2 linked regions of the Homo sapiens genome follow. The protein of the gene in region 2 interacts with the protein of the main gene of each other region in a pairwise test. Each region holds a gene or a part of one and is shown on either strand. Other genes may lie near its edges.

Region 1 (3,500 bases), on a different chromosome or scaffold from region 2:
TAGCCAGAATAGCACCTTGAGTCAGTTTCCATGTCCCAAGGACAATGTGATGAAGGTCAGATGTTCAATTCACCTGCATATGCAGTGGGGTCTGCGCTACAGAGAAGAACTCTGAAATTATGAGACTCAGAGCTTATATAGAATGGTTGACATATGTGGCCCTCCTCCCTTCCAGAGAGAGGAGAGAACCTGGAATGTAAACAAGTCCTCCCTGGGAAGGGGACTTTCACAATCATTGAAGGTAAACAAATGGCTCTGGGGGAAAGAGGAAAGCAGCTCTCTATTTTTAGTAAAGCTTGTCTGCTTCCTTTGCCCAGAATCCTCAAACTGTGCAGGAACTCTGAGAAATCCAGGGTATAATTATCTCCCAACAATAATCCCCAAGGTCTCTTTTAGCTCTGATATTCTATGTCAAAATCCCTTAACCATCCCCAACCTGGCTTCATGTCTCCTCACCTAGTTCTGCAAGTTACAGTAACTGCACCTCAAAGCAAGACCACCCTCTGCTGCTCATCCCAGGGCCTCACCCAACACAAGGGATCAATCCCCTCTCTGATGTCCTATGGGTCATAGACTTAACTCCATCCAATTGGGTAAATCCATTGAGTCATTAATCTTTCCTGTTTGTGTCTTCCCATTCCCAAACCACAGAGCAAGATCCCAGAGGGGAGAAGCCATGCTTTTTTATCTCTCTCCGCCCCAGCAGGCCTCACCCAGTGTTAATGCACAGAGGAGCTACGCAGTGAATCTTCATGAGTGCCTTCCTCTCTGGTGCTTCCCACACAAACTTCCCCCAAAAAACAGCCGACACCTGCCATTTCTGCATCACCGTTAACAGGAGAACTGTGAATTCTCTCTATTTAAGTCTCAATATCCAAGCAGTTGCCACATTCCGACAATTTCTCACCTTTAAACTGCTGCTCCTTCCAACTACCCTAGTCCAGACCCTCATTATCTCATGCTTGGACACCTCTGTGTCCACGCCCAGAGCTCCCAAAATGCCAACTTAGCATTTGGAAGGATCATATATGGAGGCATTCTAAAATAGTTTCCAAAGTTTTTCTAAGACCTACTGAATATTGAGGAGTGGAACCATGATTTCTACATGTATCCAGTCTCTCAGGTGATTCCAAAACAGAGGCAGGTTTAGGAACTACTGGAGCATGTCAGTTCTCTTTTAGTTCACTATAAAAACCTGCCAGATTCAACTTCATAAAATACCACTTACATGAAGGGAGGGTGGTGGTCATAGTTTGGCTCTAAAAGTTTGAAAATTAAAGGTCATCCACCTGTAGAAACCTGTTTTTGCCTTAAAATGCCCACAGGATGAAGACTGAACACCTTTACCAGCATTCAAGTCCCTTTATAAAAAGCCTCTGCTTCACCCAAATTCTTCTTTGAACCTGCTATAAGCTTTCTACACCACTGAGCCTTTCCCCAATGTCATAATCTTCTCCTACTCCTGCTCACCTCCCTCAGGAAGCCCTCCCAGACTTCCTCATTTCTGCTACATGTCAGTAATATTTACAGAGCACTTACCATGATCTACTTTGTGTTGGTATTTATCTGTTATGAAATTAGCTGGTCCAAATGGAAAGGAAGAGACCAAAAAGATCATCGAAAAGCTGTAAGAACTGAGGGAACTATTTATTCCCTCAGAACCTAGATTCTTTCTCTTCAGAATAGAGACTTGGAACAGATGGGATTATAAAGCCCCAGTTAGAACTAAAATGTAGGCATGCCTGAAACCCCTGGTCTAATCATCCTCACCTTTCACTCTCCACCCAATACACATACATGCATTGTACAAATAAGGACCCCATAGAAACCGGTAGGAAACCATGTGCTGGAGCATGAAAGAGCCAGGGTCTCACCTTGTAACTGAAGCTGATGGCATTGTCATAGCCAACCCACTCTTTCCCCTTGTTGGCATACGGGACATACTGGTAATCAATCCAGTGCTTCTTCGCTCCCCAGACAAAGGAACAAATCTGCCAAGAGGACCACCAGGTTAGTTCTGGGAAGTGCCATGGAGATAAGCACCAAGAGACAGTTGTTCCTTGCCCAAGGATAAAGAATCCAAGAATCCCTAACCAGCGAATGAGAAGAAGGTAAACCAAAGAGAGAATGGAGAGGCCACTCACAAATGAGTTCCTCTCTATTTTGAATAAATTCCTACTGTTACCCTTTCCTCTCTCTACTGTCCATGATGGAAAAAAGGGAACCAAAGAGTGGATGACATCCTTAAGAAACCAAGCCAGGGGTATAATGCCAGTACCAAAATAGTAAGAGTAACATACATGATCCTTGACCAAATCTGTATCTCATTCAAAGTGTTTTCATAAACAAGTCTCTCCTGTTCATTAGATCCCAGCACAGACTGCCCCATATAGGTGGTTCTCAAACTAGCACCTGAACTTCTAGTAGATTTAAAGTTCTTGAAGGCAGGGAGAACTAGGTTGCTATAAATAATTAAGCATTTGAGTGTCCACTGAGTGCCCAGCATTGTGCTAAAAACTATATGCTGCAAAAAAGTAGAGGTACGCAAGCTGTGCTGCAGAAGTTAATGTCTAAGCCATTCCTTTTCTCCTTTGGTGCTTCAAAGGGTCTGTCTATCAAAGCTTCTTTGCCCTTCAAGAACATTGTTTCAACTATGCCAGCACTCATAAAAATGCTTCATTGGGTTAGAAAAACACCCTCATCCATCCAGCGCAGAGCAGAGATTGGAGAGACTTGCAGCACCTCCACTACTGCCTAAAGTACTCACCCTGTCCCTCTGTACCTGCTGTCCTCTACCTGGGAAGTCCTTCCCGTCTAGTCATTCCTGTCCATCAGGATTTTCCTGTGCTTCAAACTCTGCTCAAACTCTACCTGCTCCATAAGACCTTTCCAGGTCACTACAGCCACACAGTTATGTGGCTCGTATTGCCACCTCTGGTGGTTACATTCCCTTGGAAACATGTCTCTTTCCGCCACCCAATAGCAAGCTTGGTTGAGACGAAGATGAAGAGGGTAGAGCTGGAGTGGAGAGAAAGAACCTGTAGTAGATAATGTCTTGGAATTGCTTCAAAATCATCTAGTAGTAGGGAGGGAGGGAGCCAGCAGAGATGAGACAAAATTGGCCATGAATTATTAATGATTGAAGCTGAGTGAGTAGTATGTGGGGGAGGTACAGAGGCTATACTATTCTTTTAATTTTGCATATGTTTGAAATTATATATATTGCAAATATTAATGATTTTTATTTAGGCCATACAGAAAGTCAGGGTTTACCTGTATAGCATATAAGATCATTTTTGGGGTGCAATGAAACCCTTCCATCCAGATTCCACCAAGTCCTTCGTCCCTTACAAAGGACTCAAATAACTTACCTCAAAGAAAAAGAAAATATCCCAGAGAGTGGGTTTCTCTTGTACTAATAGACCACCTCTTTGCCCTGTCTACAGCTCTCACCCTTGCCATTGCCCCTTGTCCTGGCCTTTGCTCCAGCTGGGGGTGGG
Region 2 (4,020 bases):
TCTTGTTGTTTTGTTTTGTTTTTATTTTTAGAGACAAGGTCTCGTTCTGTTGCCCAGACTGGAGTGCAGTGGCATGATCATAGCTCACTGCTGCCTCGATCTCCTGGGCTCAAGCGATCCTCCTGTCTCAGCCTCCTGAGTAGCTGGGACTAAAGGGACATGCCACCATGCCCAGCTAATTTTTAGTTTTTTGTAAAGATGGGGTCTTGTGGCCAGGCGCGGTAACTCACGCCTGTAATCCCAGCACTTTGGGAGGCCGAGGCGGGCAGATCACAAGGTCAGGAGATCGAGACCATCCTGGCTAACACGGTGAAACCCCATCTATACTAAAAATACAAAAAATTAGCCGGGCGTAGTGGTGGGCGCCTGTAGTTCCAGCTACTCAGGAGGGCTGAGGCAGGAGAATGGCATGAACCCAGGAGGCAGAGCTTGCAGTGAGTTGAGATTGCACCATTGCACTTCAGCCTGGGCGACAGAGCGAGACTCCGTCTCAAAAAAAAAAAAAAAGATGGGGTCTTGCTATGTTGCCCAGAGTGGTCTGAAACTCCTGGTTTCAGGCAGTCCTCCTGCCTTGGCCTCCCAAAGGGCTGGGATTACAGATATGAGCCACCATACCTGGCCTGTTTTTTTGTTGTTGTTGTTTTTGAGAAAGAGTTTCGCTCTTGTTGCCCAGGCTGGAATGCAGTGGCGTGATCTCGGCTCACTACAACCTCCACCTCCCAGGTCCAAGAGATTCTCCTGCCTCCCAAGTAGCTGGGACTACAGGTGCCCACCATCACACCCAGCTAATTTTGTGTATTTTTAGTAGAGATGGGGTTTCACCATGTTGGCCAGGCTGGTCTCGAACTCTTGACCTCAGGTGATTCACCCGCCTCAGCCTTCCAAAGTGCTGGGATTACAGGCGTGAGCCACAGCACCTGGCCTGTTGTTTTAAATAAACCAGCTTTACTGAGATATCATTCACAATTTACTCATTTAAAGTTTACACTTTACTGTACAACCATCACCACAACCAATTTTAGAACATTTTCATCACCCCATGAAGAAATTCTGTACTCAAGGCCAGGCACGGTGGCTCAAGTCTTTAATCCCAGCACTTTGGGAGGCCAAGAGGGAAGGATCACTTAAGGCCGGGAGTTTGAGACCAGCCTGAGCCACATAGTGAGACCCTGTTTCTACAAAAAATTTAAAGAATTCGCGGCTGGGCACGGTGGCTCACACCTGTAATCCCAGCACTTTGAGAGTCCGAGGTGGGTGGATCATGAGGTCGGGAGATTGAGACCATCCTGGCTAACATGGTGAAACCCCGTCTCTACTAAAAATACAAAAAATTAGCCGGGCGTGGTGGTGGGCACCTGTACTCCCAGCTACTCGGGAGGCTGAGGCAGGAGAATGGCGTGAACCTGGGAGGCAGAGGTTGCAGTGAGTGGAGATCACGCCACTGCACTCCAGCCTGGGCAACAGAGCAAGACTCTGTCTCACAGGTGGTGCACACCTGTGGTCCTAGCTACTCAGAAAGCTGAGGTGGGAGGATCATTTGAGTCCAGGAGTTTGAGACTGCAGTGAGCTATTACCAAGCCATTGCACTCCAGCCTAGGTGACAGAGCAGGATCTCATCTCTAAAGACAATTTAAAAAGTTAAAAATTTAAAAATTAAGCTGAGCGCAGTGGCTTATGGGTGTAATCCTAGCACTTTGGCAGGCCGACGCGGGCAGATCACCTGAGCTCAGGAGTTCAAGACCAGCCTGGTCAACATGGCAAAACCCATCTCTACTGAAAAAAATACAAAAATTAGCTGGACATGGTGGTGCACACCTGTAATCTCAGCTACTTGGGAGGCTGAGGCACTAGAATCACTTGAACCCAGGAGGCAGAGTTTGCAGTTAGCTCAGATAGCGCCACTACACTCCAGACTAGGTGACAGAGCAAAACCCTGTCTCAAAAAAAAAAAAACAACAACAAACAACAACAACAAAAAATTAAAGAAACCCTGAACTCAGTAGCAGACACTCCCTGTTCCTCCTAGCAGCCCCACACCACCTGCTGGGTGACAATTCTTGTGCCCTTGTTTTCCCCCAAGTCTGCACAACAGGGGTCACAGGGAGTTGAGGAAGAGGAGGGGTCTCTGACAACACATGGAGACTTCTCAGCAGCTCTTCGTCCAGGTCTGCAAGGAACAAATCCAGTCCCAAAGACACCAGGTCCCAGAAGCCAAAGCCTGAAATGAGGCCAGCAGGAGGCAGCCTTTGGCTCTGTCTTTTGCCAGATGGGCTGGATGGGGAGGCGAAGCTTAGGATGGGGGATCTGGGGGACAGGCAGTGTGGGGAGTGACTCTGGCTGCTCCAGGCACAGCCAAGCTAGCTGTGCTTGGCTTAGCTTCCTGCCTTCAAATCTGCAAATGGTGAGTTTTCTTTTTTTTTTTTCTTTTTTTTTGAGACAGGAGTCTCGCTCTGTAGCCCAGGCTGGAGTGCAATGGCGCGATCTCGGCTCATTGCAACCTCCTCCTCCCGGGTTCAAGCAGTTCTTCTGCCTCAGGCTCCCGAGTAGCTGGGATTACAGGCGCACACCACCACATTGCCTAATTTTTGTATTTTTAGTAGAGACAGAGTTTTCCCATGTTGGCCAGGCTGGTCTCGAACTCCTGACCTCAGGTGATCCACCCACCTCGGCCTCCCAAAGTGCTGAGATTACAGGCGTGAGCCACCGCACCCAGCCCCACGAAGGGTTAGTCTTCTCTGCCTGCTGAGCTAGACTGGCATGGGAGTATTGGGGCCTGCAGGAAATGGCCCACTCCTGGCTGCTCTGCCTCGATCCTGGAGTTCTGGGATGCCCCTGTCCCCCAGGGCCTGGCACCCCCACGCTGTTCACCCCTGCCCCCTAGGTCTCCTGTTCAGGCTTCCATCACACCTCTGTCTGCCCCCTGGGTGTCCCTGTAGGACTCACGCCTCTGCCCGATCCACCATGGTCCTAATGAGCTCCCAGAGGAGGCCCGAGAGCGTGGAGCAGGTCTGCCGCATCCACAGCCTGAGGTCTGTGACCACCTGTGCAAGGAGGAGATGGTGCTCAGGGAGGCCGATGTGTTGCTTCCCTGAGGAGCCAGGACCGCTGCAGAACTCTAACTGCCCCCTGGGCTCCTCAAGGTTGGGACAACACGGAGCAGGGGGTGGAGGGGCTAAAGCACCTGGTCATTCCGGCTCCGTCCCGTGTGCAGCTTCCCTGCCGTTGCACCAATGAGCTCCTGGAGGTGAAGGGAGACCCAGGGTCACGGTCTATACCCCCAGAGGAGTCAACCCAGGCAGGGCAGTTTTCCTCATCAGCCCTGCCAACCTACCTCCATACCCCAGGGCTCCGGGTCCTCCCCAAATCTCTCGCCATTTCTGCTGAGGCCTGTTCTTTTTTTCTTTTCTTTTTTTAATTTTTGTAGCTGTGGGACCTCATTATGTTGCCCAGGCTGGTCTCGAACTCCTGGTCTCAAGCAATCCTCCCACCTCAGCCTCCCAAAGTGCTAGGATTATAGGCATGAGCCAGGGTGCCTGGCTCATGTCCTGAGGTCTCACATGCTGTCTGCCAATGGCGAAGTAAACAGAATGGTGCTAATGCTCAAAGTGGCCCTGGGCAAGGTGGAGAGGGGAGGCAAGGAAAGCGGTGGGGCTCCAGGGGTCGTACCTTCAGGCGGCGCTCATTGGCTGTGTGGATGTCCTCATCATTGGAGTTCAGTTTGAAGGTGCCCTGGGCCCACTCCTCAGCCACCTGTAGTGGGTAGCAGCAATGCCGGGGTCAGGTGAGCAGGCATCAGCAGCCAAGAGAGCCCCTGCCTTGGTCCCACCCTATCCCTGGTGACTGACTGTCCCTGCCCAGGAGCTGAGTCCTGGAAGCGCACCCTGGGAGGGGGCATCTCAGGCCCAGCACACCTTTACCCATGAGCCATGTGGGCCACAGGGGTCATTAAAGGATGGAGAGAGGCAGTCATCAAGGCACACAGTTAAACAGCACTTGAGTATATAATTAGTTCAATGTGAA

Evidence for each region.
Region 1: the proteins of ASL (region 2) and OVGP1 interact in a two-hybrid assay, tested with the Homo sapiens proteins (one large-scale study listed by BioGRID and IntAct).

The regions. Positions count from the first base shown.
Region 1 is NC_000001.11:111,417,736-111,421,235, forward strand, and holds part of OVGP1 (oviduct-specific glycoprotein precursor), read right to left. Parts: intron 1,994-3,500; exon of another isoform or gene 1,992-1,993; coding exon 1,875-1,991; exon of another isoform or gene 1-1,874. UniProt on the Homo sapiens protein: Binds to oocyte zona pellucida in vivo. May play a role in the fertilization process and/or early embryonic development.
Region 2 is NC_000007.14:66,082,098-66,086,117, reverse strand, and holds part of ASL (argininosuccinate lyase), read right to left. Parts: intron 3,751-4,020; coding exon 3,667-3,750; intron 3,239-3,666; coding exon 3,182-3,238; intron 3,042-3,181; coding exon 2,944-3,041; intron 1-2,943.